Regions from separate parts of the Homo sapiens genome. Here all the other regions are linked to region 1. Evidence: fine-mapped expression QTL. A gene starts in region 1. Each other region holds a variant in brackets. All regions are shown on one strand. Distances are between the middles of the regions.

What was found. PIP is the estimated chance that this variant, and not a neighbour inherited with it, causes the effect.
Region 2: its variant is fine-mapped to the expression of TLN2 in tibial nerve (GTEx, PIP above 0.99). The same link has a PIP of 0.9 or more in esophagus muscle and gastroesophageal junction.
Region 3: its variant is fine-mapped to the expression of TLN2 in aorta (GTEx, PIP above 0.99).
Region 4: its variant is fine-mapped to the expression of TLN2 in thyroid (GTEx, PIP above 0.99).

The regions. Positions count from the first base shown.
Region 1 is chr15:62,387,277-62,395,276 of GRCh38, reverse strand. TLN2 (talin 2) reads right to left here and starts at 4,727. Exons shown (of 59, transcript NM_015059.3): 1 at 4,592-4,727. RefSeq lists enhancers at 3,705-4,319, 5,238-5,307 and silencers at 4,498-4,827, 4,875-5,071.
Region 2 is chr15:62,408,753-62,416,752 of GRCh38, reverse strand. All of the region lies in intron 1 of TLN2 (talin 2), which reads right to left. Among named protein-coding and RNA genes, the nearest start is that of TLN2, 22 kb to the right of the region's middle. The variant G/C (reference allele first, on the strand shown) is at 3,811.
Region 3 is chr15:62,513,326-62,521,325 of GRCh38, reverse strand. The region is part of intron 1 of TLN2 (talin 2); the gene reads right to left. Among named protein-coding and RNA genes, the nearest start is that of TLN2, 130 kb to the right of the region's middle. The variant G/A (reference allele first, on the strand shown) is at 4,986.
Region 4 is chr15:62,754,625-62,762,624 of GRCh38, reverse strand. TLN2 (talin 2) reads right to left here. Exons shown (of 59, transcript NM_015059.3): 37 at 6,932-7,093; 38 at 804-944; 39 at 172-353. Among named protein-coding and RNA genes, the nearest start is that of MIR190A, 65 kb to the left of the region's middle. RefSeq lists enhancers at 2,934-3,731, 3,732-4,529. The variant G/A (reference allele first, on the strand shown) is at 4,026.

The DNA.
Region 1 (8,000 bases):
ATTTCAGTTACTATTTCATCACATTCTCATCTCCCCACCCTCTACCCCACCCCCGCCCTGGCTACTAGATACACAAAGTACAAAAGAGTATCACCTCCTCGGAACACAATGTGTGGGCATTGTGAGGGCAGGGGATGTCTTCTCAGCATAAAGTACATGGTAAACCCTCAAAAACATACACTGAATGAGTGAATAACAGACGTAGGGAATTAAGTTTGTTAAAACTGCAGCTAAAAGAGTAAAAAGAAAATACAAATGTTCATTCCTTGTTCTACATTTTCAGAACAGCATCAGTTTGACTGAAATTAAATTGTTGATTAAGAGAAAAACAAAACCATGGTCTTGGCACCGTCTCTGAAACTCCACTGTGAAATGGGTGGCAAATGAGCCCAGTCCTAATTCATAGCTCTGGGTGACATATAAAGACTCTCACAACTAAAGCATTTTGTACCCAACCTTGTCCACCAGCTGTTATTCAAATGGCACCTGCCCCAAGCCAAAGATTGTCAGGGTGGTCAACACACAAGAGAGGTCTACCTTAAGCATGTTATCTTCCCCTCCTCCACCCTGACTTCTTTGCCTTTCTCCAGGTTATTGAGGAGGGGGTGTGGGCCCTGCAGGGGAAATTTGACAGAGTTCACATTCCCTAACTCTTTGAACTTTAGGCAAAACATCTGGTCATACCCACCATTTATCCCTATTATTTGTAATAGTTATGTGTGGCTTATGTTTTAACTAGTCTCCTTATTAGATATAAAAGTAATACGATTAAAAAGTTCTGGGGAAAGTACTGTAATTAAAAAGGCACCAGTGGGTATGTTAAGCTGTAATTCCAGGCCTGCTTATTATGTTTTCCTTCTTGTCTTTAAAATTTTTGTACCTAATAAAAATAACTGAATTATTTAGCTCTTTTTGAGTACTTCCTGTACTGGCCAACGACCACTCAAAATCATCAGGAAAACATTATGACTCAAAAGTTCTGGAGCAATAATGTCACAGATCACAAGTTGTAGAAACTGTCTCAAGAGTCTGGACATGCCACACACACATCACAACACCACTACACAGACTGGTAAACAGACAGGCAACTTTCCAAAACACATACTCGTTTTCTAACCTTTTGAAGTTACAAAATCTTAAAAGGAAAAAAATGCAAGAATTTTGGTCAAGCCATGAAGTTATGATGATTAAGAATCAGGTTGGCCAGGTGCGGTGTCTCATGCCTGTAATCCCAGCACTCTGGGAGGCCGAGGCGGGTGGATCACCTGAGGTCAGGAGTTCGAGACCAGCCTGGCCAACATGGTGAAACCCTGTCTCTACTAAAAATACAAAAATTAGCTGGGCATGGTGGTGCGTGCCTGCAGTCCCAGCTACTTGGAAGGCTGAGGTGACAGAGCAAGACTCCATCTCGGAAAAAAAAAAAAAAAGAATCAGGCAAGAGGCAACAAAGCACGATGTATAACAATTTGTTGAGAGAGGCATTAAAAAAAAGATAAATATTAAGGTAGTAAACTTGGGAATAAAGATTGGAGGGTTTGCAATAAAGCTTCTCTTTTTTATTATGTAAGGTTTAACATGTATAAAATATATGTGGCATATACATAGTTACAAAGCATAACGCTAAAATGCATAAATACCTATTTAGATGCATAGTTTTTTTCTGAGCATAGTTGGTAAAAATTTATATCATTCACCACCTGTAATCGTCCTTTACTGCTCTAGAGAACTAACGATGTTCTGGGAGTGAGGGGTGAAGGAGGGGAAATCAGGTTAATTTTGAGAGAGAAAAGACAGATATTGACTAGAAAATAACATACTCACCTCTTCCTAAACCCTAATTTCACTTAAAAATACTCTAGGGAACAGTGTTTGGAAAAACCTGAATGAGTCAGCAGTAGATGAGTTCAAAACACATATATAGCCTATGCCTGTACAGAATATCCCTAGTAACTCATTCAACAGGGTCAAGTTGTTAAAAGTTCGCTTTCTCTTTCGAGGTAGAAGCTCCACATCAATGCCAAAAAGAGAGACCCTCTAATACTCTTTGGAATCTCCCTGATAACTTAAATGGTTACAAAGGCAGAGAGAAACCAGTGGCTTCCCCAATATGAAGAGACCTGTTTCTGTGATTAAGGTGCTCCCTCTAAGACTGGAAACTTAAAACGGATTGAGGCTTTCTGCAACTGATTTCTCTTCTAAATTAGCTATGCTAATTTTGGAAAAATATATCTTGGGCTCTGGGTGTTTTCCACTATTCTAGTGCTCAATGAAAAAAAAAAGGCATTCGTGTAGGCATCCCTCTTCTCTCAAGACCACTTGTCACACCCACCGCCATCCTCTGATTTTGCATAGAGGTCCCAAATAAGCAATCAAGGTAGGTAAAATCTTGGCTGACATTCATATCGGAGTCACTTTTGCAGGCGCTTCATGAAATGAATCAGGGAAAGAGCTGCCTAACACCTAACATCTCCAGGCACATCTCCCACAGGAAAGCCTCTCCCCTCCCTCTGCACACCTAACCCCCAACCCCAGAGGTTTCTGTGGTCCCTTCTAGCCTCTTCAGTGAAGAAGACCGGAAGTGCCGACAAAACCTCAATACTATGACATCATTTCGGTAACACTCCAAGGAGAACACGTTCCTGCAATTGGCTGCCTGTAGGTTGGCAAACACGCCCGTGCCCTGTCCCATCACAAAGCAGAGGTCACAGTCTACTTCAAAAGTAAAGATTCCCCACTCCCGCTTCCCCCTCACTCCAGAGAGGTCGCTGCCTCCAAGCTCTGGAGAAGGGAGGTCAGCGTGCAACCTTACAATGCCACAGCTTAACACACCCAGGTATTATTAATGGAAAAGTAAGTGGTACTTACAGCACCAGGGCAATTTACGTGTATTTTGGGGACCACTTCTCCAAGACATCATCCCTACCCAACCGTCTTTAATTATGTCTTTGACAACGCCAACACTTCAGTTCATTCCTCTCTCATCTTCTGGAAAGAACCAGAAGTTTTCACTATGAGACACAGGAATTCTGGCCTAAGTTGTCCCAGCTCTTCAAGGACAGCAAGAATCCAAGTTTCCCCACGCGTCACCTGAAGCCCCAACTTCTGGAAACGCCCTCCTTTCCTCGCCTCTACGAGCTGCGAGAGCAGAACACGCAGCCGCGGGCGCTACTGCTGTCGCCGCTAAAGCCAAAGAGGCGACTGGAAGCTCAGGCTGTTCGGCGGCCTCGGGGCGACCACAGGCCAGGCCCTGGTCCTGATCCACGAACCAAGGCGCCTCCTCTCCCCCAGGAAGTGAGCTACTGCGCCCCTCGGAGCACCCAGGCGAGCCCGGGCACCGGGAGAACGCTCTACACTCGGCGCCCAGCCCCGGGACGCCGCCCAGCGCACGGCTCCGGCTGAGCACCCGGGCAGCGGTAGCTGCGGGGAAGAGGGGCGTGTTCCCTGAGCCTCGGAGCCCCAAGGCCGGGTCCAGGCGGGACAGAGGAAGGCGGCAAGCCCAGCACGCTGTCCGTGACGGCGGCTCTCGTTCCCAAGCCCCGCCGGCTGGCGTGGCGACGCGCTGTAGTCCGCGCGCCCTTGCGGGGACAGCAGTCGTGCGCGCCTTGTGCGGCCGCCTCCGCGCCTGCCTCGGCGCGCAAACTTTCCCGGCGACAACCGATCAGGCCTCTCCGACTGGGGCGCGGGGCTCTCCCCGGGACCCAGAAACTGCTCGCCCCCTCCCCTCCGCAGTCAAGACCCACTGAAAATATGGCGCCCTCGAAAGTCGTTCCTCGGTCCCCTCAGGGATCCCGAAATACTCGTCTCCAGGTCCCTCCAGCTTCCAATGGGCGCAAAATTTCAGCTCGTGGGACCGAGGAAGGAGAGGGAGCCGCTGAGTCTGTGTGAGGCCAGCCGCACTGGATGCAAAGCCTGGCCCCGCTCTCGGCCCGGCACTGCCCCCGTCGCTCAGCGGCCAGCAGTTCGCCCGTGGCGAGATTGCCAAGTAAAGGGCAGTCGTGGGATCGGCAGGTCTGAGTGTCCGGCACCGGAGAAGGAACTCCGCACTGGCGGGCTGTCTTAGCCCAGAGCCTCGGCGGGAGACTTGTTTGCAAAGTGGCGCTGGAGTCCCGGCGGCCAGTGCTGGAATGAAGCTGCTCCTCCAGCGCCAACTCTTCTGGCGCGGGGGCCCGGCTGGGGTCGAGGGGACACTCTATGCAGGCGGGGCCGCTTTTCAAAGCCCAGTTACCGGAAACCCAGCGAGAGCCCCGGAGGGGACCGGCTGCCCACGGCCAGGAATCCGCTCTCTGGCGCCGACTGCGAGGCTGTTTGCAAACCGCTGCGCCCGGGTCCGGTGCAGTGAAACATACATGTGCAATAGACAGGTGCATTAATTTCATTTTATTTTTATTTTCCTGCAAGAAGCCCTCCTAGACCATCAAATCTGGGAGCTTTACGGGTTTTTCCTGCATTGGCATCACTCACGAGAAGCAAAAGGGAGGAAAAAAAACCCCACATTTTCCTTCTGGAGAGGGGAGGGAAAAGACACGAGAAATTCATGCAACGTGCATGCAGCTGGAGGAAGAGGAAAACCCGAGTGAGCCGTGCGCCTTACCGGGGGATGCATTTACTGTCTCATTGCAGAGCGCCTGCCCGGGAGTGCAGCCCGCGTCCCCCCGCGCGCTGGGCGACCACTCCGCTCCCGCAGCCGCCTCAGCCGCTGCCGCCGCCGCTGGCTCCGGGCGCGGAACAAGAGCCGAGGGCGAGCGCGAGCGCACTGCCCGAGAGCGCTGGGAGGGCAGGAAGCGCGTCATCATTCGGGGACGGCGCGGCGCCGGTCCGGCCGCGGCGCCGCGCGGCACCGGGGTGGGCCGCCACCGAGGCTCAGGCGCCCGTCCTGGGTTTCCTCCCACGCGTGGTGATGCTGAAAGGGTCCGCGAGGGAAGGTGATGCACCGGCCGAGCTGTCACGGGGAAGGGAGGCTCGGGGTGACCCCGGCTTCCCAGAATTGGGGCTCTGCTGTGTAAAGGGGATGACTGCAGGACACAGCGTCTTGTAGGCTGGGGCCCCTAGGTCCGCAGAGTGCCCTCTCGGGACCTCTGGCCCGGTCCTGGGGGAAGCGAGCTGTGGCTAACTGGAGGGCCGTGGTGGGCGGTGGGGTCTTGCTGCGAAGCGGAGGGCCGTGACCCCAGGCGAGCCTGCTCCTTTCAGCACAAGGACCCTGAAACCTTGCTGGTCAGGTGTCACTTAGGTATTTAGAGAACGACTATAGGGATGAGTGGCGGTAGGGGCGTGCTGTGTTGATAAGAAGAAAATAATTCACTCCTGCTTGCCATGCCCTGAATAAAGTCAGTTATATACCTCTTACATTTACAGTCATTATTAGTAAATACTGTAAATACCATGGAACAATGTGAAGGTTATTCAAGGGGGTGAGGAGACAAAACACTATGTACCGTATGGTCCCGTTTTTAAAAACTGTGATTTATGGAGAAAGGCAGAAAAGACTGGATAGATAAACACCAATAAGTCTCTCAGTGATTGGTGGAATTGTGAGTAATTTTACTTTTTTATTTATCTGTAAGGGACACATTAGTAATTTAAAAAAACAAGAATTAGCCATGACCCCTTTACTCCTAGTACTTTGGGAGGCCAAAGCAGGAAGATCTCAAGCCCAAGGAGTTTAAGATCGGCCTGGGCAATATAGCGAGACCTTATCTCTACAAAAAAAATTAAAAATCAGCCGGGTGTGGGGGCGCATGCCTGTAGTCCCAGTTACTGGGGAGAATGGTGGGAGGATCGCTTGAGCCCGGGAGCTCGGGGGCTGCATGAGCGGTGATCCTACCACTGCACTCCAGCCTGGATGACAGAGCGGGACTCTGTCTCAAAAAAGAAAAAAAAAAGGAAAGACGACATTATTTCCATCCCAATACAGAATGGACCAGGAAATAGGTAGCAAATCTATTCAGTTACTCAAATGGAACTGCTGGCAACTTTTTAGTGTTTCTCAGAGAAAGAAACTGCTGTCACCATAAACCGGAGACTGAATTGATTTTGTAAATTGAAATTATTTTGAATAAGTCCGTTGGAACATTGGATAAGGCTGGACATTCTGTGAGAACAATACCCTGTCCTTAACCAGGCTGATGAACCGGACTGTATGTATCATAGCAGCAAAGATAACCTTAGGGTACAACTTTGTAACTTATTGCAGAATATAAACTGTAAAGCTAACAAAGTATACATTATCAATGCACAGTGAGAGAACCAATTACTTGGCAACTTGAGAAAGTCCTAAAAATTGCAGGGCACAATTTCTCATTGTACAGGTAAAGTATTTTTGTTCACCACGCCTTTTTAAACATTCACCAGTCTCACAGAATAACTAGTGGTGGCAACAAGCCACCTCAGGGGTTGATTAAAAAGTACATGTTTATTGATTTCTGTATGAGCCTGGTAATAAGCTCACTAAATTAATGCCACCTAAATTGTTCCTTGGTTTACTAACAAAGAATAACCATATTTTTATGGTCCAAATGCCAGGTTTACATAAGAGGCTCATCAAGAAGGAAAGGAAAAAATGGTTGCAACTTAAGTGATTTTCCCCTTCCACTTAGTCCTCCGTTCATAGGGCCCAATAGCTTCCTATCAAGCATCTCAAAATCTTTCTGACACCTGGATTTCAAGATTTTCCATTACTTAATGCATCCTCTTGAAAGTATCCCCACACTTTTCCACTACCCATCAGCGGGATGCCATTCAGTAATGGAAGCTACATTCCATGAGAGCAAGAACCTCATCTGTATCTCTGTGCCTGAAGGAGCCTGACACATAGTATTTAATAAGTACTCAATAAAAATCTGCTTTATGAAAATAGCCTTATTTGTTCACTACCTATCTTACTAGTTCCTGAGATATTTGAAAAGTTATCTATTCTATTAGAGTGTCAGCAAAATTCTGGGATGCTGAGATCCTGTAGAGTTATAGCCTTGGTTTGGTTCAGTTACTTTTCAAAGTTCCAGCTAAATCCTAAGGCATTCACAAGGGTGAGGTGCAGGTGTCTGAATATTTGGGCATTAATAAGCCAGATAGCACTATTCTGTGGCTTTCCAAGGTCAATTAAATTCTTTCCCCCAGTGAGAAAGAACATCAGCCTTAGAACTCAGCTTTAGTTCTAGCTTCAAACCAATTGGCTTTGGACACTTCTTAATTTTACAGCTCCTGGTTTTTCTAACCACTCTTAGGGCTCTAAAAACCATTTACTGTTTTTTTAGAGAAATCAACTAACCATTCTACGTCCTAGCATTATATTTTTCAAAAATTTCCCCAGTAGAAGTAAAAGCAATTTTACCAGTAACCTTTACTAACTTTTCTGAAATTGAGATGCCTCCCTAGACCTAAAAAAAGTTATTTCTAAATTTAGAGTCAGCTACTAGTAGTCGCTGTCTTTATTCAGAGTGATCATAGTTCATTGTAGACCAGCAAAAAAAAACTAAAAAAACAAAATCTAACTTTTTTTAACAAGATTACATTTTGGGGCTTCGTCTCTACCCAGCAGAGGAAAACAGGGTGGGAGATAAAACATTCCATCTAAGCAATTTCTCAAGCCTTACAGCCTCTTACTTCTGCCCAGCAGATCTTAAGTAGCAAAATAAATACACTTTGTATGAATAAAGAGTGGAACATTTGGGGAGGTAAGTCAAAGAGATAGCTTCCAAGTCACTTGTAATAAATATATCTGGAACGAAAAACCATTTTCTTCACAAGTCAGATTTGTAATTACCAAATTAGACATTGCTTGGTGCTAAAGAGCTGGATGCTGAGAGATTGCCCCTCTCCTCCCATTGCACTGAGCCTTAACCTCCTGAATTCCTGTTGAGCACTTGTAGGTATCTGGGGTGGCTTTGCTCAGCTTTCATAGCTGAGCAAACTCAACTGTGTCCATGTTGAAAAAATAAAAGAAATTCCACCAAATATTTTGTTATACTTTATTTATAAGAGAATATTTTGTGCCATAATAAAAT
Region 2 (8,000 bases), 21 kb before region 1:
ATTCAAGCCACCCTCCTCTGGGCAAAGGGGCAGGGTGGCTCCTGTCAGGCCAAATGCTAAATAAGCCTCTCTCGCAATGGCTTGAGAGTCATCTCTTTGATATGTAATATCAAGGAAGATAATGCTATATTCTGGGCAGGAAATGAGCCTAACTTCAGCTGTCACCTGACTCCAAATTGCAAACCCTACCTCCAGCCTCAAAGATACGGCAAATTTAGCAATTTAATCTTGAAAACATAAATATAATGAGTTGTATCTACTTAGCTACACAAAAGAGCAATATTTCTTTCCCTTTCTGCAATTCCTTTAGCAGATTGCCTGTGATACACATCACATTCTGGCTTAAAGCTTAGCCAATAATAAGATTGTGTTCTTTCTCTTCTACCTTTGTGGAGAGGTTTTCTGGACTGAAGAGGGATTTTGTTTTTAATTAATTAATCTACTTATTTATTGTTTGAGATAGAGTCTTGCTCTGTTACCCAGGTTGGAATGCAGTGGTGATCACAGCTCAATGCAGCCTTGACCTCCTGGGCTTAAGTGATCTTCCTGCCTCAGCTTCCCAAGTAGCTGGGACTACAGGCATGTGCCACCATGCCTGGCTGATTTTTGTATTTTTTGTAGAGACAGGGTCTCCCCATGTTCCCCTGGGTGGTCTCAGACTCCTGAGTTCAAGCGATCTTCCCACTTTGGCCTCCCAAAATGCTGGGATTATAGGCATGAGCCACTGTGCCCAACCAACTTTGTTTTTAATTTATATTTCCCCAACATTCTTCACAGAATCATCCCAACTTCCACCCAGACCTGACTCCCTTTAAATTAGTTTTAAGCCAATTACATCTTCAACTAAAATAGGGTCCCTTTAAGTTTTATGATGTGATTTACTGCATGGACATGGAGGGCTACCCCCCACAACTCCGAGATCCTAAAACTTGACACGTGGACCTCTGGACATAGCTTAGTGACAATCTCTCAGCCTCACACACTGCAAAGACCACAAATTCCAAACAGAGGAAGCAGACCCAGCGACCGTGAGCCCACTGGCCCAACCCTTGGAACACACTGTTCCCTGTGCCAGGAGCGCCTGGCAGCGGGCCTCTTCCTTTGGGTCACCCCAGCAGAGCGGGACTCCTGTTTTGTTGGGCTGCTGTTTCCCCAGAATGGGGCAAGCAGGGGTTAAATGAATGGGCACTGTTAGCTGTCCTCTTTCCCCTCAAAGTCAAAGTAAATCCTATCTCAACATTTAGTTTGTTTCAGTTGGAATCATTTGTTCCACCAGGAAACGTTTCTTAAACAGAGAGCTCTGTTTCAACTGTTACAATGAAAAAGTCCTTTCAGCAGCAGAATGTTCATCAAACATTTTTGCTATCATGCAGCCAGCTGAACACAGGTGAAAAACATCCATATCCATGTCTCAGCCCTGCCACTTGCTACGTCTCCTCAGAAGAAACTCGCACGGCTGTCAGTCAGTTCGGGCACCTCTCCTACCCTTTCCTCCCAGAAATCTGTCCATCTCTGTCCCTAATAGGAACATGACTATCAAAGGCATCCTTGACACAGTGGCTCACGCCTGTAATCCAGCACTTTGGGAAACTGAGGTGGGCAGATCACCTGAGGTCAGGAGTTTGAGACCAGCCTGGCCAACATGGTGAAACCCTGTCTCTACTAAAAATACAAAAATTGGCAGGGCATGGTGGTGCACGCCTGTAATCCCAGCTACTCGGGGGGCTGAGGCAGAATTGCTTGAACCTGGGAGGCACAGGTTGCAGGGAGCCGAGATCACGCCATTGCACTCCAGCCTGGGCAGCAAGAGCGAAACTCCATTTCAATAATAAATAAATAAATAAATAATAAAAATTTTAAAAGGCATGCTTGACAGGAAAAATTCTTTTATTTACTCCTCCTTGGGTCACAACCAGAGTCTGCTTTTAGAGCCAAGTTGGAGGTAGACTCGAGGGTTCCGTCCAGCCAGACCTTGGAGCTGTCATTAATTTATTACTAAGCACTAGTGGAAATCTAACTTTATTTACCCCCATCAACTTGGCTTGTGTTACCAGAACAAGAAGGCAACCAAACATGAAATGCTTTGGGAAATGACCCACTAGACTGAACGTCCAAATCACTTTTGCTGTTACATACTGTATGACAGCGGTTCTCAAACCTCTGTGTGCAGAACACCCCTGAGAACTTGTTAAAACAACGGTTCCTGAGCCCCAGCCCAGAGCGTATGGTTCAGTAGTTTGGGGGTGAGGTTGGAGAATTTGCATTTGTAGTAAGTTCCCAGGTGATACTGCTGCTGCCACTGGTCCTGGACTACACTTTGAGGAGCCTGCTGAACACAGCACCTCAGCCTCTACTTGAAGGACAAACTAGCTTCTTACTGGATTCAGTGGCAAGATTAAGCCCACTGGTTCTCAAACACAATCCCCTTGGAACACCAGTGCTCTACCACTGAAATCAAAGCATAGGCTCACTCTCCTCCCCCACATTCTCAAATCAAATTAAACCTCAAGCACCACTTACTTGTTCCTACTATCATCTAAAAGGATTTAATTTCTCAAATTATATATATATATATATATATATATATAGTTTTTTTTTTTGCTAACACTTCACTGAGTTCAACCAATATGACATGTGATTATGAAGTTGTAATGGCCCAGCTGCCACAGCCAAAACCACATGGAAAGACACCAAAATTCAGTGCACTTGGCCTCTAGCTCAAGTTCAACTTCCCAAGGCAATCTCCCTTGACCACTGCAGCCAGATGGCTCCAATCATTTACCATACCCTCAGACTGCCAGATAAATAAAGGGCTTGGTTCCTGCCTTCAAAACTCAATCTAGGGGACAAAAATAAAATAGGCATACACATTAAACCATTTTTAACCAAGACAATGTGTAATCTATTGCTGAACTGTGCAACATAAATGTCAAAGGCTTCAGATTTTCTGCACAAGCAATCTGGTGTTTCATCACAGAAAATGCCTCTATCCACCCCATGCCTCTGCACTGGAGCCCTTTCAGATCCCCTACTCATGCTACAAGAATCGCTGTAAAGTTTCAGCCTTTCTACAATTTAATTTTAAAAACTTAATGTGCACCTGTCCCTGCAGACCTTGGCAATAGCATATAAATTCACGCCATGACTTTGAACACAAACATCCTGCCACTTACAGTGCAGAGGTTTTCCCTGTTCTGTGTTCCGTAGGTCGCTCTATCTGGCGCGTCAAGCCAAGAGAAACAGCCGGGTATAGCATCCCCAACAATAGGGATATTTACTGGCTTGAGATTTTTCTTTCCTGATCTTTATGCCTTGTACACTTCAGATGGACTAGCAATAAAACTCACTATGTTAGCTTGGGGGTGGGGGCAGGGCCAGCACATCTGGATCCAATCATTGTAATTTTACATTCTTAGCATCTTCCAAGGCAGCAGAGCACAAGGGGCAGTGCATGGACTAAATAAGATCCCTGGATTCTGATCAGGCTTTATATCTAACCCCATGTGTCACCTTGGGCAGGGCACTAACCTCATGAGGGCTCAGTTTGCTAAAGAGTCTTCCAAGGCCAGGATACCAGTGCTAACTAGCAACACAATTCAAGTGTTGATGAACTTATAATGACTTTCCCTTTTCCACTTGATTTTACCTGCAAAGATTTCAATTCTCCCTGGAGGAGACATTGGCATTGTTCATTTTTCTCGAGGGCACATCGCTCCCTCTTCCCCTCCTCCCTATCCTCCACTCTCCCAAGCCTTGCAGTCTCTCCACTTCTCTAGTTCAGCTTCTCCAAACAGGGGCTGTGATGAGAAA[G/C]AGCCCCCAGGAGAGTTTCCCAAATTGGCACTGAGTTCTCTCCAACTAATGTCTAGCACAGCAGGCCTTTAGTTCCTCAAATAAGCTTCTAATTGTCTTTTCAGAAATGTGCACGGACGCTTATTTCAAGCCATTTGGCAAGTGCCTCGCAGGGTATTTCCTCTGACATTGTGCTTAGAGAAGGAGGATTTAAGAGTCTAGGGGAGCATTAGAAAAACTGTACTCCATCTGATCCTGCCCTTGGACAAAAATATAACAACTTTTTCAAGGACCCACTGCTGGTATGATGTAAACCTCCACAGGTCTTCAAGAACTCAAAGTTGCTGACTCTTACATTTGAATGTAAGTCTTTACCCAGGGACAGGAAGAAGGTGTCCTGACAGAGTTAATGGATGCCAAGAATTGTGACACATTTGGGTGGTCCCAGTCGTGCCAAAAAACACATGCTCCTGTCTCCCTGGGCATCATTCTTCCAGGGTCAACATTAACAGAAGGACAGCTAGCACCCTGCCATCAGAGATGATGAAAGACCACAGGTTCAAGAGGATTTGAGTAGAGCACTCAATTTGGAGCCAGAAACTTGAGTTCAAATCCCAGACCTCCGTCTCTTCCAATTCCTCAAAAAGGTTATCAGCCCTTGTTACCACCACCTTACTGGTTTCAAATGTTGACAGGTGTCCCAGTCCTCTAGGCAAGCCTTTCCCCAAATTTAGTATGCATGCAAGTTCACCTCGGGATCTGATTAACATGAAGATTCTAAGTCCGTAGGTCTGGATTAACTTAAGATTCTGCATTTCCAACAAGTTTCCAGGTGATGCTGAAATTGCTGGTCCACAGACCGATTTTAAATCGCAGGGACAAAGAGACTTATGATCTAACCCAGTGTTTCCCAAAAGTCCCTGGTAAGAATTACATGGGCTAACTGTTAAATACGCCAGAGCATGCCCAGCGAGCTGTGTAAATTTACTTTGAGTTAGTACTCAGATGAATCTTATCATCAGAGAAGTCTGGGAAACCCTGAACTAGTTCATCCACATCCCTCTTCTAAAGTTCCCACACAACCCGTGGGTCCCCTTGTCTCCTTTCCATTTTTCTCTTTAGTTAACTTAAAATCTAACAGCCTAGCCCCTGCTTCTAGGGCCCCCATTTTGAGAGATGAATAATCTCCCAAACTTTTCCAAGTTCTGGCGTACTTGAAAAATTACCATGTCAGTAGGGCCTAAGTCCTGGCAGCCCCAGAGGAATGGAGAGAAGACTAAAGGCATCATTCACTATCTCAGCTCACCTGTTAGCATAATTCAGCTCCCTGACTAGAAAGCTCTGCTCCAACCTCAACCTCAATGGGCAAAACCCTGCAGAGCCCTCCAATATATCTCCCCATTGTTAAGATGACCCAAAAGAAAAAAAAATATATCAAACTTCTATCCTGAGGTTGCCTACAAGGGCCAATGCAGCATGGGAACAAAACACACACACACACACACACACACACACACACACACACACACACACATCCATTACTCACACTCTCTAAGGAGGAATAACATCTAATTACCATGTGCCCAGGAGCATGAACTATCTGTTTTACATCCATCATCTACTAAATCCTTGCAATAACTTCATTACTTGGGGATGATATACACGTTTTACTCATGAGGACACTAAGGCTTACAGTGGTTAGGTGACTTGTCCAAGGTCACACTAAATTATGGCCACTATGCGGTGGGTTCCCACATCAGCATGTTTGTGACCTTTGCAGCATTCATCCCTCTTTGGTTTGTTTTAATGCCTCGGTCCACACATACGCTTCCAGACTGTGCTATCCATGAGGGCAGGGCTCAGGTCTGTTTTGTTTCAGGCTGTATCCACCATGCACTTGGTAGACACCCAGAAAAAGATGTGCCAAACTGATGAATGACTCCAAAGCCAGGGCTCTTCTACAAGAATAGGCTGCTTCCACAACCACAGCAAGCACATGGATGTACCCTGGTTTAAAAGACTCCCAAACTATAAAACACGAATTTACAAGATACACTATGCGTTGGAGAATGCACAGTGGAAGGGCACTGGCCTAGGAGTCAGAAGACCAAAGGACTCTTCTCCCACTTACGCTACCTTATCACCGTACTTGAACAAGCCCCTTCGCTCTCTGCACCTCGGCTTCTTCATCAATCTGATGGTTTAATTCATCCCCCAAACCTCTGTGAACTCCCACATGTGCCAGATGTGGTTCTAAGAAAGAAATGACTAAGAGTAATGGATAAGAGGCTGCGCCCATCCCTCAGTAGCCCTGCACCAATTCCACTCCACCCAGCCCACTAAGCACTAACGGAGAGAATGCACAAAGAACAGTTTTCAAACAAGTATGAAACAGAGAGGGTCCTTGAGGGAATACATGCTTCACAAAAGGAATCTTTACTTTGCAAACTAATTCACAAAAAGCATGGCTAAAGTGACAAGTTCCTCTGATACCTTTTTTTTAAAATCAGGTTTATTAAAGTATAATTACGTAAAGTAAAATTCATCCTTTTTAGGGATACAGTTCTATAAATTTTGACAAATGCCTGTAAATCTTGCTGCAGTTTTTACTTTATTTATCTCTAACTTTTCAAGAATACATTATATAAAATGATGTGAGTATATATGACCCAAAGACACAAAATTAACTTTAGCTCCCTTTTTTTTTTCTTTTTTTCTTTTTGAGATGGAGTCTCGCTCTGTCACCCAAGGTGGAGTGCAATGGCGTGATCTCAGCTCAGTGCAACCTCCGTCTCCCGGGTTCAAGCAATTCTCCCGCCTCAGCCTCCTGAGTAGCTGGGATTACAGGCGCACACCACCACGCCCGGCTAATTTTTGTATTTTTAGTAGAGACGGGGTTTTACCATGTTGGTCAGGCTGGTCTTGAACTCCTGACCTCGTGATCCACCCGCCTCGGCCTCCCAAAGTACTGGGATCACAGGCGTGAGCCACTGCACCCGGACCTAGCTCCCATTTCTAAAAATAAAGGTTCCTCATTTTCCCAGAAGGAAGAACATAGAACTAAAAATCTTGTCTTTAGGGGGAAAAAATTCATTTGTGGAAACATCTGCAAAGCACAGAACTTAGAATACCAAGATCTATTACACTGGTCAAGAAAACTGAATCTCTTCTATTAATAAAGTATCTCCTCCCAACCCTCCCCCTCCCATATGAAAGCATTTACCAATTTTTGAAATATGCATGCAGAGTCCAAGAATATACATATATTTCAACCATGGTCATTCCTAACTACCTGTGCAGTTTAAAACCACAAAGCCTCCTTGAATTAACTCCAAAAATCTAAAATATATTTCACATACTATTAATGCTCCAAAGGAATTTACTTTGACAATGAATGTAACTTTTTAAAAGGCTATCTTAAAATGAATTGCATGAGCTTTTATAAAAAATGAGAAGGGGAATGGTTATTCAAATAGAAAGCTAACAATCTATTAAGATTACATCTCTGTTGCAGAATGAGACCCTGCAACAGCCAGAAAAAAATGGAAACAAATGCCAATATAAACAATCTAACAGTATTTATAACCCTACTGTGTGACTGGCTTCTGGTAAAAAGCAGGACTGATTTCCAAACCCTAGTTCAGTGACATTTAAACTTCAGTATACCTAAGGATATTTTGATTATAAAAACTACAAGGCACAGTGGCTGACACCTGTAATCCCAGCTCTTTGGGAGGCTGAGGCAGGCGGAAGGCTTGAGCTCAGGAGTTAGAGACTGGCCATAAGCGACATGGCCAGTCTCTACAAAAAAAAATCCCCAACAGTCAGTCATGGTGGTGCCACCTGTGGTCCCAGCTACTTAGGAGGCTGAAGCAGGAGAGTCGCTTGAACCTGGAGGGCAGAGGTTACAGTGAGCAGAGATCACACCACTGCATTCCAGCCTGGGAGACAGAGTGAGACCCTGTACCCCCCAAAAAATAAATAAATAAATAAGTAAAAATAAGGGCCAGGCATGCTGGCTGTCACCTGTAATCCCAGCACTTTGGGAGGCCGAGGCAGGAGGATTGTTTGAGCTCAGGAGTTCAAGAACAGCCTGGGCAACAAAGCAAGACCTAGTCTCTACAAATTAAAAAAAAGAAAAAGAAGAAGAAGAAAAGAAAACAACAAATTCTTGGACCATACAATTAATTTGGACTACCAAATTAAAATCT
Region 3 (8,000 bases), 130 kb before region 1:
ACCCTATTCCAGGGCTTTCCCCTGTACCCCCCACCCTCACGGCACCCAGCCCCAGCCATTCTTTGCTCTCAACAGCACTGCACAGATGTCAAAAATTCAGCCATAAAGGAGAAAGAGAAGGGTGGGATGTGATCTACAATTCACCACAAAACTATTCTTATGATCCTCTTTCCCTTCAAGCTTCAGATTTGCAGTTTAAGCATGTTTGGCCCAGAAGTCAAGGGACCAGACACACTCCCCTGTCAATCTATGGGAGGGACAAAGGAATGACACTGTAAGAAGACAAAAAGAAAGTGAAAACTTAAAGTAGTATACTCTCCTTACTTCCACCCAAGCCAACAGCAGGCAATGATGTGGAGCTTTTTGCACGTCTAATTTAACCATTCACCCTGGCAAGGACTAAGTATGTAAGGAGTTAAACACACACTCCTTTCAAAAATTTAACAAGTACATAAAAATTAAAAGGTCCTTAAAAAATATCTGAGTAAGAACAGATAGCCCTCAGAGATTATTTTTTAAATCGCTCTATCTCCCTTAAGAGATAGAACTTCTAAAACAGATATACACTTTAAAAAAATAAACAACTATTAAGTAAGTAATACTGGACCTCCTAAATCTGCAATATGATGCTACTTTTTCCGCTTAGCAACATATACGGTTATCTTTCCAACCACCTCCTTGGTCTCTATGCTGTAGTTATGTTTCCCGTTTAGAAGAAATAAGAAAAGGTTGACTTAGTGTCCCGTTGCCAACAGAGGGGTAGATATAACAAAACCTATTCACAATTCTGTATTCCTCACACATTCAACATGAAAGCTATCAAGGTTATCTTTTCTAACCCCTTAGAGAAAGGCTGTATGCCTGTGCATATATGTACACTTACACACATGTAGACATTACTCAGCTCTGTGCCTTCAACAAACTTCAGGGGTAAATTGCAGGCTCTTCTAAGAAGCATGGAGATGGAAATGTGCCATTTTCCATCAGAAGTGACAATTAATAAACACAACTTTGGGAGGCATACAACTGTACAACAATGAAGACTTCAGATCCCCAGAGAGAAATGGCATACATTCCGTAGCTCTTAGTTCAAAACTTGATTTTAGACACTGATATGGTTTGGCTGTGTCCCTAACAAATCTCATCATGAATTGTAGCACCCATAACTCCCACATATTGTTGGAGGGACCTGGTGGCAGAAAACTGAATCATGGTGGTGGTTTCCCCAATACTGTTCTCATGGTAGTGAATAAGTCTCACAAGATCTGATGGTTTTATAAGGGGAAACCCCTTTCACCTGGTCCTCACTGTCTCTTGTCTGCTGCCACGTAAGACGTGCCTTTCGCCTTCCACCATGATTGTGAGGCCTCTCCAGCTACATGGAACTGTGAGTCCACTAAACCTCTTTTTCTTTGTAAATTACCCAGTCTCAAGTATGTCTTTATCAGCAGCATGAAAACGGAGTAATACAAACACTAACTAAAAAACTTTTTTAAAGTTTCAGGAATATTTTCCTAGAAATACAACTTCAATTTCATATGCACGTAACACACTCCTTTCTAGAAAATGTCTTTCACTGAAAACTGTGTAGCCAATTTTATAGTCCTCAACCATCAAACAGAAATTTGCTGCTACACATTATACTCTTCCTTCTGCATACACCACTGACAAGACCCACTCTCCTTTACCAATCACTTTTGCTTCCTAGCCTAATCCTAGCAGCTGGCATACCCTGTATCAGCCTGTAAAAGTAAGAGAACACTGGAGTCTTCAATTTACAGTTCTCTATTCTGCAAAGAGGCTAAGCTTCCAAGGTTAAGCTTATTTAATATGCTATCATCATCACCAGCCAATAATTTACATTGAAAAGGCACAGGAAACAAATTCCCTCAGTGTCTCATTTATGAGCCACCAGGGATAAGCTTAAAATAAAGGTGTGAACACTAACAGAAAAATCAACATGGTCCAGGCCAAGAGTTGACTTGGGCTGTCATTAATATTTATGAGTTATTTACCAATGTAAGTGAGAGGTACTTAACTACCCCCACCCAAAGGTACTGAGACGGCCAACTTCAATTGCTGGGGAAATGTCTACCTTTTATATAAAAAGCACACTCAGGAGGAAAGGGTTTGTCTCACCTAAAAGCCCCAGATCTGTGGTCAATACTGTGGACTCCACCTTCATATCAAGTTCATCCAGCTCTATAACATAGAGGTCTATGACCCTGGGCAAGTTGCTTAACCACTTAAACTTCAGTTTCTTTATCCATAAAATAAGAACAATAGTAGTAGCTACCTCTTAGAATTGCTGTGAAGTTTAAACAAGTTAATATTTCTAATCCTGCTTAGAACTGTGTGTGGCACATGTAAAGTGCCCAATAAATCTTAAATCATTATACCACTAATCCACACTAAAAAAGACATTGCAAGCCGGACGCCATGGCTCACTCCTATAATCCCTGCACTTTGGGAGGCTGAGGCTGGTGGATCACTTAAGGTCAAGAGTTCGAGACCAGCCAGGCCAACACGGTGAAACTCTGTCTTTACTAAAAATACAAAAATTAGCCGGGTGTGATGGCGGGCACCTGTAATCCCAGCTACTGGGAAGGCTGAGGTAGGAGAATTGCTTGAAGCTGGGAGGCAGAGGTTGCAGAGAGCCAAGATCGCGCCACTGCACTCCAGCCTGGGTGACAGAGCAAAAATTCCATCTCAAAAAAACAAACAAAAAAAACATTGCAGGTCACGGCTCTCCACCGTTCACCATATTTTGCATGTTCTAGCCCATTTAGTCCTCAAAACACTGATAAAGTAGATAGAAATTTAATTTTCAGTTGAGAAACCTGAGGCTCAGACAAGTTTAAAGTCATACCAAACTTGCTAGTGAGCTGAAATCTGAACCCATGTCTATTTGTCTTCAAAACCTACGCTCCTCCTACTTCTCCAAGCTGTGTGGCTCCTTCCTGCCTCCGACACAAATAACTATAAAGAAATGTGCTGGTGGTGGCTCACGCCTATAATCCCAGCACTTTGGGAGGCCGAAGCAGGCAGATCACAAGGTCAGGAGTTCAACACCGGCCTGACCAACATGGTGAAACCCCGACTCTACTAAAAATACAAAAACTAGCGGGACGTGGTGACGCATGCCTGTAGTCCCAACTACTCAGGAGGCTGAGACAGGAGAATCGCTTGAACCCAGGAGGCGGAGGTTGCAGTGAGCCGAAATCATGCCACTGTACTCTAGCCTGGCGACAGAGTGAGACTCAATCTCAAAAAAAAAAAAACTGCTGCTAGCTAATATTTAATGAGCATTTACTATGTGCTCAGTCTGACGTCAGTGCTTTACTCTCGTTCCACACAACAATCTTATGGCTAAGTAAAATCATTAACCCCATTTTTCTTATGAGAAAATTCAGGCTTAAATAGTTCAAGTAATATGTCCAGGGATATTTAAGTAAGTGGCAGAGCTGGGACATGGCTACAGAGTCTCCCATAATTATTTCATTTAAAAAAAGAAAGAGACAAACAGACTTACCCAACAGGTCTGGGAAACTTTTGTACCATCAAATCAGTATGTTCCTTAGAATTAACATGTTTGTTTTTCCAAGTGGGTAATGTGGTAAGCCACAAAGCACCAATTCTCTTATAACATTAGCGGTGTGTTTGACTTTTAAAAAACAAATTAGAATGTAAGTAGAGTCCTCATTCTCCTGGCCAATGTCATTTTTTTGTTTACAAAAGGGGTACAAAATTAAAATATTGGGGGTGTGGAATAATTATTCAGGTTCATTGCAAAACAGCAATCACCACCTCATTTTTCTCCACTGCTCGGCAAATGCAGTGGGGGTAAACCACCATGGCCCCCAAGCAAACTTAAAAGTAGAAACAATTTTGTTTGGGATATCTTTATGTTTGTATCTATAAGGATTTAACTCAGTTATTTTTCAAGCAAAAACATGAAACATCCCATTTTATTCCAAGTACAACAAATGTGTGAACCTTTACTGTGATTTTCTACTAACAGCAGTTCAGGGTATGAAGGAAAAGGAAGAGGACAAAGGGACAAGGGTGAGCCTAAGGAGTAGTAAAGACTGGACAAAGAGGCTAAAGGATGAAAGGCACAGGTGCAGAAAGTGGGGACTCCAAGGCACAAAGTGGGAGGAACGGCGAAGGTTTGGTAATCTCTGAATTAGCAGCAACCTCTCGCCATCCTTGGCTTCAGAACATCCACCAGCCACTGAAATATTATTAGCTCTTTCATCCGTATCCACTGATCTTCAATGAAATAGTAACAGTGAGGAGGTGCCACATGGTGACGGAGCAGCAATATCTTCAATCTACAGCATCATAGTCAGAACAATCCCATCACTGGATAGTTCCAGTGAAACCCACATCTCCCTCCACTCCAGTCAACCTACACCTTTCCAATAAAACTCAGGACCAAGTTTATCAATACCTAATTCTGCCTCATGCAATTACCTCACCTCCTACCTAAAATCTTAAATAAGCAGCCCCAAAAAAACTTTCTGCTCTCAAAATGATACGAGGCAAAGCTACTAAGAATGACTGCACAGGCAAATGAGTCGTGGTATGATTGATCACCTGCCCCCTAGAGCTTCTGTCCAATTAAGCTGGGTGGGCAGAGACTGATGGTACCAAAGGCAGAAGGACACCACCAGGCCTTCAGCCATGGGAAGAAAAGAGACAAGAGGCGGATCAAGGCTGCAACAGCTGTCCAGAAGCAAGCATGCACCCAAAGTTGAAATCAAAAGATTTGAGATAATTATAGGTCACTACCAACACCATAGAGTGAATATGTTCCTTCACCTGACAGACACATTTTGTCTTATTTGTAGTCAAAACAAATAGAGTAAAATGTAGAATTCTTCAGGCAGAGCAGCAAAACTCCTAACTGCATAATGTGATTAGGACCAAAATAAACCTATGACCCATATAAAAACACTGAAAACATAATCCAAAGAGGAAAG[G/A]ATGCTGTATGTCATTTGCAAAAAGGAGAAGGCAAACTCACATGTTGTTCTGGACCTAATTTAGAAGCTCTTATTGCCAAAAACTATAATAAATTGTGAGCACACTGTCTTCTTTTCATACTGCCTTACCCTCTCAACTATAAATAATAATTTCATATAAGCTGCAACGGAAACGGCAGCAAAAGACATGGTCTCTACTTGCACAAGTCACTTGACCTCTCTAAACCCAGGTCTCCACCTGTAAAAAGAGATGGTTGCATTGGATGATCCACAAAGTAGAGTCACACTAATCAAATGTCTTCAGTTTTGAAATTCACACTTGATTGGCTCCCTTCGAGTCCTGGCCACATCATACCTGAGCTGCCCTTCCCCACCCAGGATCTTGTTGCATAGGGGGTTCAGCAGCAGCGAGCTACTGCACAGCGGGACATGCCAGCAACCACAGCTGCTATGGGGCAAGCCCAGCACACATAAAGGACAGGCAGAGGGTGCCTACAAGAGGAATGGCAAGTATGTTCTGCTGGATTTATTTATACTTTACGACCTGTCCACTACCAAAAGAATTCACTGGAGTCTGATATAAAAACACACGTCTGAAAAAAAATCAGATGTGTGAAAAACACCAAAAACCCCAACATGCACAGAAGGCACTTAAAATGAAGATCAAATTAAAAACTAGAAACTGTATGCATGTTTTCAGTGATCCTTTAGTCACTGGTAGTATGTCTACACAGATAAGCCTAAGGATAATTTCTTGTATCTAAGTAAGAAATGCCCTCTCCTTCAGGGAGAACACTCATCACAAAGTTTACTAAACCCAACACATAATAGGATCTGTTATAGTTATATTTCAAAGAAAAGGAGAAAGAGAAAGTTTTAAATTCCTGCACACAGGTATGCCAGAAAACAAGACCACAACTTGCTGGCTCTTTGGAGTAGCCAAAGTCTGGAAACTATGCAAATTTCCAGTGACAGTAAAATGGATAAATTATAGTATATTCACACAATGGATTACTATGCAGCAATAAAAATGAACAAACCAGTCATGCAAACAACAACATGGATCAATCTCACCAACACAGTGCTGAGCTAATAGCAAGAGCTAACTGATATGATAAATATACTTTTGGGGGGATTAAAATTATATTGGGAGTATGACTGAAGATAGCCATCTACCACACAGATTTAAATAGAAGATGAAAAAAATCAGAGAAACAGAAATAATAAAAATCTTAGCATTAAAATGGGCCTTAGATCTTCTCTAGCTAAGCAGCTTCATTTGACAGAGAAGGAAACAGAGTGTGTAGGGAGTTCCAAGGTTCACGTGCTCTTAATTCCTAGGTCTGTACCTTTGCCTCATACCTGCTCCTCTCCACAAAATGTTCCAGACTTACATTTCCGCTCTCCTTGGTGTAAGTGAGTTATATTTTTTTAAATGGCATTTTGCATATTTACTCTCTTCTGGGAAAGTTGAAAGTTTTCATTTTCCCAGTTTGTTAATTCCACACTCCAACAGGGTAAAGATAGAAACTGATTTAACTCTTCTCATTAGCAATGCCAATTATTTAGGAAGATAACTGTTGAATACTCACTTAAGGACTACTGAGAGATTAAATGCAATTTACCACTCTCGAAGTCTTTAACACTTCAATTACAATTACAACCTGACACAAAATTAATTTCCATGTTTTGAAATAATACACCAAACTAACTGATACAATTTCCCTTTCTTTCCCTCTGTCAAAAGTCAATGCCCATGAACTGCTAAAATAAAATCTCTTCTTACAGTATGTGAAGGTCACATTATATTTACATGCTAATGACCACTGTGAATTAATTACCACTCTTAATCAAACAAGCTCATCTGCCTAAAACAGGTTATAAAAGACCTTTGAGAGGGGAAAAAAGCACCGTATTAAAACTTTGTTCCCAACATGCCATACGTACTTGTAAAGGGAGACTCAGGATTTTTCTTAAGAGCATTAGACATTTGATCTTTTTAACAGAATTATACTTCACTGCCACAATGAAGAAAGTTTTATGGTTATTTTTTTCATAACACTACTGACATAATGACATCAGGTAAAACCTCATTCATAATGTATTCAAAAGTTTTGTTCACAAGTAATAAGAGCCTCTAGGAAATTAATTACCAACAAGAACTAAAAAAGCTGGAGGTGTTCGCATACTAGGCTAGTAGCCAACAAGCAACTGGTGACCAAAGTAAAGCAGCTAGGTACAGTGTGTGCTGTGCGCATATATTATGCAAAAACTAGAAAGTTGTGTCTTTCAAGTTATAGCAAAGCTAATGTTGAGGTTTCTGCCAACTCCTTGACAAGAATTTCTTTTGCTTTGGTTAGTAGAGGGCGGAGGGGTTAACTTGTAAGAGATCTGGAATATTCTCCGCCCTAGACTAAAGACAGAAATCAGTGTAACAGAGCCAGAGTCACAGCTCCAACACACAAGGCTACAGGCTTTTACACCATTTAATCTGCAGCTACAAAATGCCAAACAGGTTCTGAAAGGGTTTGCAATTCCATCAATATTTATTTAGCACCAATTTTGTGTAGAACTTCTTCTAGACCCTATCTGGATTGAAACCTAGAGAAGGATCTGGCATTTACTGAGTTGTCCATATGCCAGACACTCTGCTAGACCCTTTAGTATCTGTTACACCTCATTTTTCATCATCACTATCACCCTGCAGGGGAAGAATGATGGGCCATTTCACAAATGGGTAACTGGAGGTTAAGTGACTTGCCCTTAGCAAAAGGTAAAGGTCTACAAGGTTATGGGATACACTCCCTCCACTGTTCCAGCTGACCCCAGGCTATAAGACATTTCCCTGTCGAAACAGGAAGGAAATCCAACATTTACAACAGAGCAGAAAGTTCTAACACAAAGCAAAGGACACCAGCACTAGGAAGAGACAACGCATCACAGATGCTGAGCAGGAAAGCTATCACTTCCCACCTGGCAGGCAGGTGTTGGGAGGGACCACAAAAGAGGGATCAC
Region 4 (8,000 bases), 370 kb before region 1:
AGTACTTAAGTTAGCAATTACTATTGTGACCAGTGCTTCCGGCCCCAAAGAGAAAAGAAAAAGATGATAATGATCAACAATATCACTATTAAGTAAAAAGCCTGGTGGGCTTATCCTCCTCCTTCCCCGCTGAGATGCAGGCTGGCAGCAACCTCCGGATGGGAAACTGACCTGATAGAAGTGATGAGACTCTTGATGGAGTCGGACACTGTATGGGAATGTCCAGCCAGTACAGACCAGGTGGGTGGGTCTTTGGGGTTGATGGCCAGAGAGCGTGCAGTGCGAATGAGGTACGATGAACTCTCCAGCATGGTCTTGGCTGAGACCAGGATTGGTTCCTGTGCCTGGGAACCCTGAGACCAAACAGCAGAGAAATCAAAGTCAGGGTCGAAGACATGAGTGAATGACGTGGGCCCTGAAAGGTCCTGTTCTTTGCCAAATCACCACCTCTGCCCTTTGAAGGAGACAAAGAGGGCAGGGAACCATGAAGACTGGATTACCAGGGGTCTGCATGGCGGGGACTCAAGCCCATGTTTGCCCCTTAAATAGCATTTTTTGAGTGTGACACATCCCAAGAATCGCCCCAAACCTAGGCAGTAAGATTGTTCTCTACATATATGTTATCTCTCAACAGAGGTGTAGTCATTGTGTTTCACTAACTGTGCACATGCCATCATTGACAAGAGTAACAGTAGCCTACATGTTGACAGAGAGAGCTGTTGGAGTTTTAACTAGTAACTCATTTGGTGCCACACAAAGTTAGCCAAAGACCTTAGTATGATGTTCCTGTAAACACTCCCTACCTCGGAGCTGATCTGGGCAGGAATGCTGACAAACTCAGGGTTTGAGGCGAACGCTGTCAGGTTCTCCACAGCTTCAATCAAGGGTGCGGTGGCGATGCGACACTTATTGCGGTTGTCTTCAGAGAAATCCCCATCCAGGGCCTGATGGGAGAAAACAGGGAGATTCTGCCCAATTGAGAAGCACAAATTATTTCTGAACCACAGTAATCACCTCTTAGTGAAAGAAGGTGGTTCAACCGGAACACTGAAAATCTCTGGTGACTTCATAAACAATAAATAGGAACTGATGAAAGAGACCCCTGCCATCAAGCAGAGGGGCCCAGTTAGATGTTGTGGAGAATTAAATGTGTAGCTCACAGGACAACTGACTCCACAGTCAACTTTCCACTCCCAGGAAGCAGAGACACAGATTTAAACAGCACCCTGCTCTTCAACGCCCCGTGACCCCCTGCACCAGACTATGCAGCGGGACTACTTTCCTCCTCACTTTTGAGACTACAATCCTTGGGATCTTTGCCTTCATTTTACTCAGATTAAATCTATTCTCTTCCAAACAATAAACATACCGTATTGTATTTTAAAGCAGTACTTTTAACTTTTTCTAAGTTTTACCTGGATATTCCCTAATGACTGATGGAGGCAAGGCAGGCATAACTGTCATCATTCTGAAATGAACACAATGGAATCTAATGAGAAGGAATAGATGAGAACTACCCCCAGCCATACAAATAAATCTCACAAACATCATATTTAACAAAACGGGCCACCCACAAATGGGTGCCTCCTGTACAATTCCATTAGTACCAAGTGCAAACACAGGTGACCCTCCTAATCTAGGGTGTTAGAAGAGCAGATAAGACCGGAGAGAGCATAAGGAAAGCTTCTGGGTGTCAATAACATTCTGTTTCTTAATCTGGCTAGAGTTACCAAGGGGTGTTCCACTTGAGAAAATTCACTGAACTCTAAACATAACGTGTTTTCTCTGTGTGTATCTTATGCTTCATAATTAAAAAAAAACAAAAACAAAAAACTAACAGCAGGTAACACAATGGCATTGCATGATCAGGCCTATTGCTGATTTACGGTCTGGATGGATAAGGATCCAGGAATGTGGCCTGTGATCCATGCTAGACTGCTAACAGAGGGTCAACACTTCGATGAGGTTCCCAGCCCTGGACTCTACCTCCTCAGGATCAAGACTGTTAGAACCTACAGCCTGTGACCCAATGACAGAAACCCTCCCTCCCAGCAAAAGGCTACACTTGACAAGGCAGTTATGTTTGCAGAAGAATGCAAATTTCCTTGTTAAATGACCACTTAAACTTTTAACTTAACCCTTATGAGCAACATATAAAGCCAATTTAGACAATTGGGATAAAAAAAAAACAGGGGCACTGGCATTACCAAGCAAAGCAGATCTGAGATGGGAGCATTTCTGTTTTTCAGTAGAGCAAGAGGAGGCAGCCACCGTTGGTTTGAAGGCGATTTCTGAATAACAACTACATTCCAATCAAGCCTTGGCAGCTTGGGACAATAATTACATACCCACAATGCTAATATTTTCAGAGGAATTCCCGCAAGCCTGGCTAATTTACTGTTTTTTGCTAATATAGTACCTGGCTTGCCTTGGCTCATGCCCTTCCCCCACCAGACAGGCCCTGACCCTACCCTCACCTCTCCAGTTCTGCCATTTTTCCAGGCCCAATGGAAACCCTTGCACGCCGGCTACTTCTTGCTCACATATAAAGCCTCATTTCTCACTACCACTTACATAGCTGGTAAATGTTGATTTATGCTGCCGGCACTGGCCACGTAGAAGTGAACCACTTTGGTACTGTGATCTTGTTGCACTGTTAATATCGCTCTGAAGTTTGGTAGATCCCTGGAGGTCGGGGTTTACCAGACTTCAGAGCAATTTGAGAACACCAGTGCGAGGCAGGGTGGGTGCCACTCAGCAGGAGCCTGACACAGATGGGCCCAAACACAGGCAAAAGAGTGAAGCAGGCTGATTGCAAGAGTGGACTTTGGAGTGGAAGAAACTCAGGTCCCAGCCCCACCAGTGGCTACATGGCTTTCTCCAATCATACCCCTTCAGCTGGGATCACACGACTTCCAGCTTAACAGGAGATGCTCAGCCTTCCCTTGGTGCTGCTCGCCCTTCCTGCTTCTTACCTCTCCAAGCTTTTCTCTTCCCCTTTCTGCTCCCACAAACCTCTCAGTCTATTGGGAAGAAGGGCAGCCAATCAAGCCACTAAGCCTAAGCTGAACTTCTTCAGACTAAAAAGATGACAACTCAAGGGAAATCTCAAGGAATGGTTTTCTAATTGTGTAGGTGTCACAGACAGCACTATTAGAATAAAGACAGGGTTTGTTTGTTTGTTTGTTTGTTTGGGGCTTTTGTTTTGAGCACAGGCCCTAAAATCATATTAACATATAGCCCATTGCTATTTGCAGGTCAAAGCCTTGAATAACATGAACTAGAATAGCAAGCCATATCAATCATTTTCCATTCTCAAAAAGGACAAGTTATTTTATCCAGAAAAGGCATCCGGCGTCAGAAAGGATAGTTTGCACAGGTATTATTTCACTTCTGAACTCTGCTTCCATTGGGCACAGCAGAGCCACTCAAGTAAACTGAATACTCAAAGCTGCCCAGTGGTGACATTTCAAGCAAGCATGAGAGTTTCCATGTCACAGAACATCTGGCATACCAGCCATAATGATGAAAGGGTAAATTTACTCAGCCATATTTCCAGGCCCCACCAGAACAAGAACACTCCCAAGCCCGGAGCCTGCTCCAAGTGTTCCCCCTTAGCAAAATACCACGGACATCTGGGAGAAACAATTTCTGTGTATGCACAAAGTCAGATTCATGGACTTTGGGGGTTAGAGGGGACCCTAAAGACAATTTAAGCTTAAACTCCCAATTCTCCAGACAATAAAACCAGCACCTGGAAAGTGACATGACTTGACAAGGTCACCTTGCTACTCACTGGCATGCCTCAAACAATGAACCGAGCCTCCTGGCTCCCTTCTCTCCTGCTGACCTTAGACAAAGGCAACAGAACAAGGAGTAAAAAGCCCAACAGCCTTTTTCCTTTTCCTTCTAAAGAAACCACTTTCCCAATCCAAACATAGGGATGACCAAGAAAGCATACTCACAGCCAAGTCAAATTCGATTAAAGAGAGCTGGATCGGGTGTCTGTGGTACACACTGAAAGT[G/A]CTTAATTGCAAAAACCCCGAGCTTTAACTCTGCTGTGAGGGGCAAGGCCAAACTTCAACTTCTCAGAAAAACAAACGCTGCTGTTGCATAATTTCTACTTGGCACCCAAATGTGAGTGACTGCACATTTAAAATAACATTCCATTCCACACATCTGATTCAAGACTAGGTAATGAGCTGAATGAAAGGAAAAAGGCAGGCAACAGCGTATGTGGTGACTCGGAGAGACAGCCGCTGTGGTTAGGGGTGTGCATCCTTCTACCATGCCCAGCATTTACAGCCATCCCTGGCAGGAGGCAGAAACACAGAAATGGATTCTCGTGGAGCCCTGCTCTGGGATTTTAAAGAGTGCCATCAGTAGTGACTGATGCCGATGAGCCACTGTGTGAGGTAATCTGCTCCTGCTCCCTCGTGCTTCTCTTGGTGGCTCCCCTCCCTTCTTCATGACTATAAGGGTGTGGCAGCTGGGATTTAGGCTTGGGCACATCCTCATGGTTAAAAGAAAAAAACAGCACTAAGCAGCATAAAACTTAAGAGCAATATGCAGCTATCAGGGCACCTGTCTTAAGCACTGAGGGAATTAAATATTCATTTGTTTTTCTGTTTGACAGAACACATAACCATTCCTTCAAACAGGAAATCTATTCAGTATATAGTACCATGTGCTACAGTGAAATGACCTTTACCACTTTCCTGTTAGTAAATTAAAAGCAAAGCTCATGGCTCCCAGCAAACCCTGCCACATGATGGGAATTGAAAAACCAGGCCCATTTCCACACGCGGAGGGGCAGCACGTTCATTTCTGTTCCTCTTGCATTGCTCCTCGTTCCCAGGGTGCGCCAGGAGACGGAGGCCTTTATCTTTTCCACGTTACAACCCCCCGACATTCCTCCCCTGATGTTCTGCACAGGCCTATCTTTTAGGCCATCACGAGAGCTCATTTGCTGCAGGGAATCGCAAAGAGGGTTTGACACTGTGAGGAGAATCTGAAAAGAACATGAGATCTTAACAGAGATGCTTTATATAGAGATAGGTCAGGATTTAAAACTGAAGAGGAGGCAGACAAGAAAGGGCTCCAGAAATTTCGACAGAATAAAGAGTGTCTTTCCTGTTTTTACTCCGTTGGTCCATCTAAATATAATGTTTTTTAACGACCAGAAAATGATTGATTTTAACTGAGATAAGCTCATTACACAGCAACCAACGATGTCACTGCTGTCAACTCTATCGCTCTTTCCACCCTTACCTCCCCAAACTCACACACAAGCCCTGCAAACACAGCAAGGTCTTTCTTCCCAGGCTGGAGAGATGACTTCGTCTCTCCATCCCAAAGAGGTGAACAGCATGCCAGGGCTGAAAGCAGGGGCTCTGGGGCCTGGGTTTGAATTCTGCCCCACCACTTCCTGGCTGGGTCACCTTGGTAAAGTTACTTAACCTCTTTGTGCCTCAGATTCCCATCTGTAAAATGGGGATAAGCACAGGGTGGTTGTATGGAGTGAATGAGTAACATACCTAAAGCACAAAATAAACATTTTTAAATGTAAGCTTTATTACTTCCTAATTACTGTGAACTATGATGGTAATTCAGGTAACCTGCCACCAGGATCATGGGGAACCTGGACACTGGCTTTATTCAACTTCAACTGAGCTTACTCTTGCCTTCAAATAGGGAGGGGTTTTTGTTTGTTCATTTCTAAAAAAAAAGACTCTTTGTTTAAACAGCTAAGAAGCTGCTGACTGGGGTGCGAGCCCCATGTGCTGACTGCCAGCTTCCAACTAGCGCTGGGCTGGGTGTTCTCTCCTTTTGCCTCTGCTTGGTCATCCTGTTGACTGATTTCTGCATGCAATTGCACTGGCTTTTTGTAGTCAAAACAAAATGAGGTGTGCAGTGTCCTATCCTCTGGAGAGAACTGGGAAAACTTCTCTTACTCTAGGACTGTCCCAGCAGCAAAGCCAAACCTCCTATCTGAATGAATACAAAACCCTTAACTAAAAAGTGTTAACTCCTTCAATGCCTTTCCCTTCAGTGGTGTCCAGGGTTTAACACAGAACTGGTATCTTGCCTCCCATGACAATGCTCCTTTGAAGGCTGGGGCTGTGGAGGGAGCTGGCGCGATGGTGCTGGGCCTTCTGCCTGCGGTCTGTTGTCCAGGCTGTGGCTGTTTTCTCACAGGTCAGCTGCCTGCTGCCTGCTTGGTCCTAGCTGAGGGCAGACTGTGTTTGTGGCTTCATCGCCCACCTACAAGTACTAAGGCCTAGTGATTCCCACTTGCTTCTTGCAAGTGAACCTGCCCACCCGCCACATGCCCATATACCTTAATGCAAAGGTGAATTTTTAATGAACACCAGATGCTCTATTTTTAAAAGTTGACGCTCCACTTAAAACATTCAAACAGCTATAAACAGAATTAATATCACAGGAATGATGAAAATGTTTTAAGTGATTTTTCCACAATCTCCCATTCCCTTCTCCTTCCACCTACTCTCTTGGTCCAGATATATTCAGCAATGATGGGAGAGCCCTCTACTAGCCCACCCAAAAACGCTGCAAGTAAACATATCATTTAAGTAAAATCAGGGTATTTGCTACGCAAGCACAGTGCTAAGAGAGGCCCTATAACCAACCCTTTCCCACCAGAGTTCTGTCCCTAAGCTCCTCATGTACAGAATTTGGGGAGGCCTCCTTCCCCACCATCTAAAAGGTTAGTAGAGCCCAAGCCTGTTGGTTTTTCAAGAAGAGTATCTCCATTAGTAAGGGATGCCTATTCAGTGACACAAACCATAAGACTGAATTAGAAGTTAAGCTTCACTAGACAAGGAGAGGAGTGGAGCTTAAATCTTGTTCCCCTTCCCCCGCCAGAACAGGAGTTACAGAGTTCAATAAGGCCGGTAGTCCAGCGACCTACCTTGATGGTCTTCACCAGGTTGGCAGTGCTGTTGGCGACTTCCTTGGCTGACTGGACGAAGTGCCTCTTGGCTACTGGGTTGGCCGTCTTGGATGAGGCGATGCGGCAGGCATTGCACAAGGCTGACGTGTGCTTGGCAACAATTGTGGCGGCTGACAGGACCTACAAAGCATGGAGCTAGGTTGGGGGTACCCCATGCTACAGTGCAGAGGGGTCCACCCCGGTCCTCAGCCCTGGGTTCCTGTTCAACTCACATGTTCAGAGCCTGTGTAATTACAAGCATGTCTAGTTCTGCGACCCTCAAAGTCACTCCAAGAAAGAGGAGGGCAAGAAATCTTAAGCACAGATAATAAAGAAAGAATAAGAAAAAAGGAGGTGCTGACATAGTGGTGGGATAGGCTGAGCCCCAGGTAGTCTTAAAGGAGATGTAATCAGTTAGCCTTTGGAACCCCAGATAGGAGGTCCAGGGTATAGCATCTAGACCAAGGTCTACACATACCCAATTTTAAGTTTTCTGGCAGTCACTTTAAAATAAGTAGAGAAACAAGAGAAATTAATGAAATAATTTCTTCTATTTAACTTGGTATATCCAAAATATTTCATCATATAACCAATTTAAAAATATTGAGATTTTACAATCTTTTTATCATACCAAGTCTTTGAAATTCAGTGTGCACTGCATATTTACAACCCATCGCAGTTTGGACTAGTTCCATTTCAAGTGCTTAACAGCCACATGTAGCCAGTGGCCACCATACTGTAGAGCCCAGATCCAGATGACAAAAATACATATCAAGGTGCAACAGCTCCCTCCTCATCCATGGAGGGCTGCTGGCACCTACTGAGGTGTCTGGCTCAGGAAGTTCCACAGGCTCCACCCCGCCAGCCTCAACTCATTTGCTTTCCTGAATCCACCTGTTCTGCTTTGCTGAGGCTGGTAACACCCCTTTGGCCTTGCTGGATGGGTAAGGACTCCCAGATACACCAGCTCTTGGGGCTGCTTTAGGTCCACATGGTCCTTGTGTTTCCTTCTTTGTTCAGGCCCTTCTCCTGCCTCAAGAACGTGGGC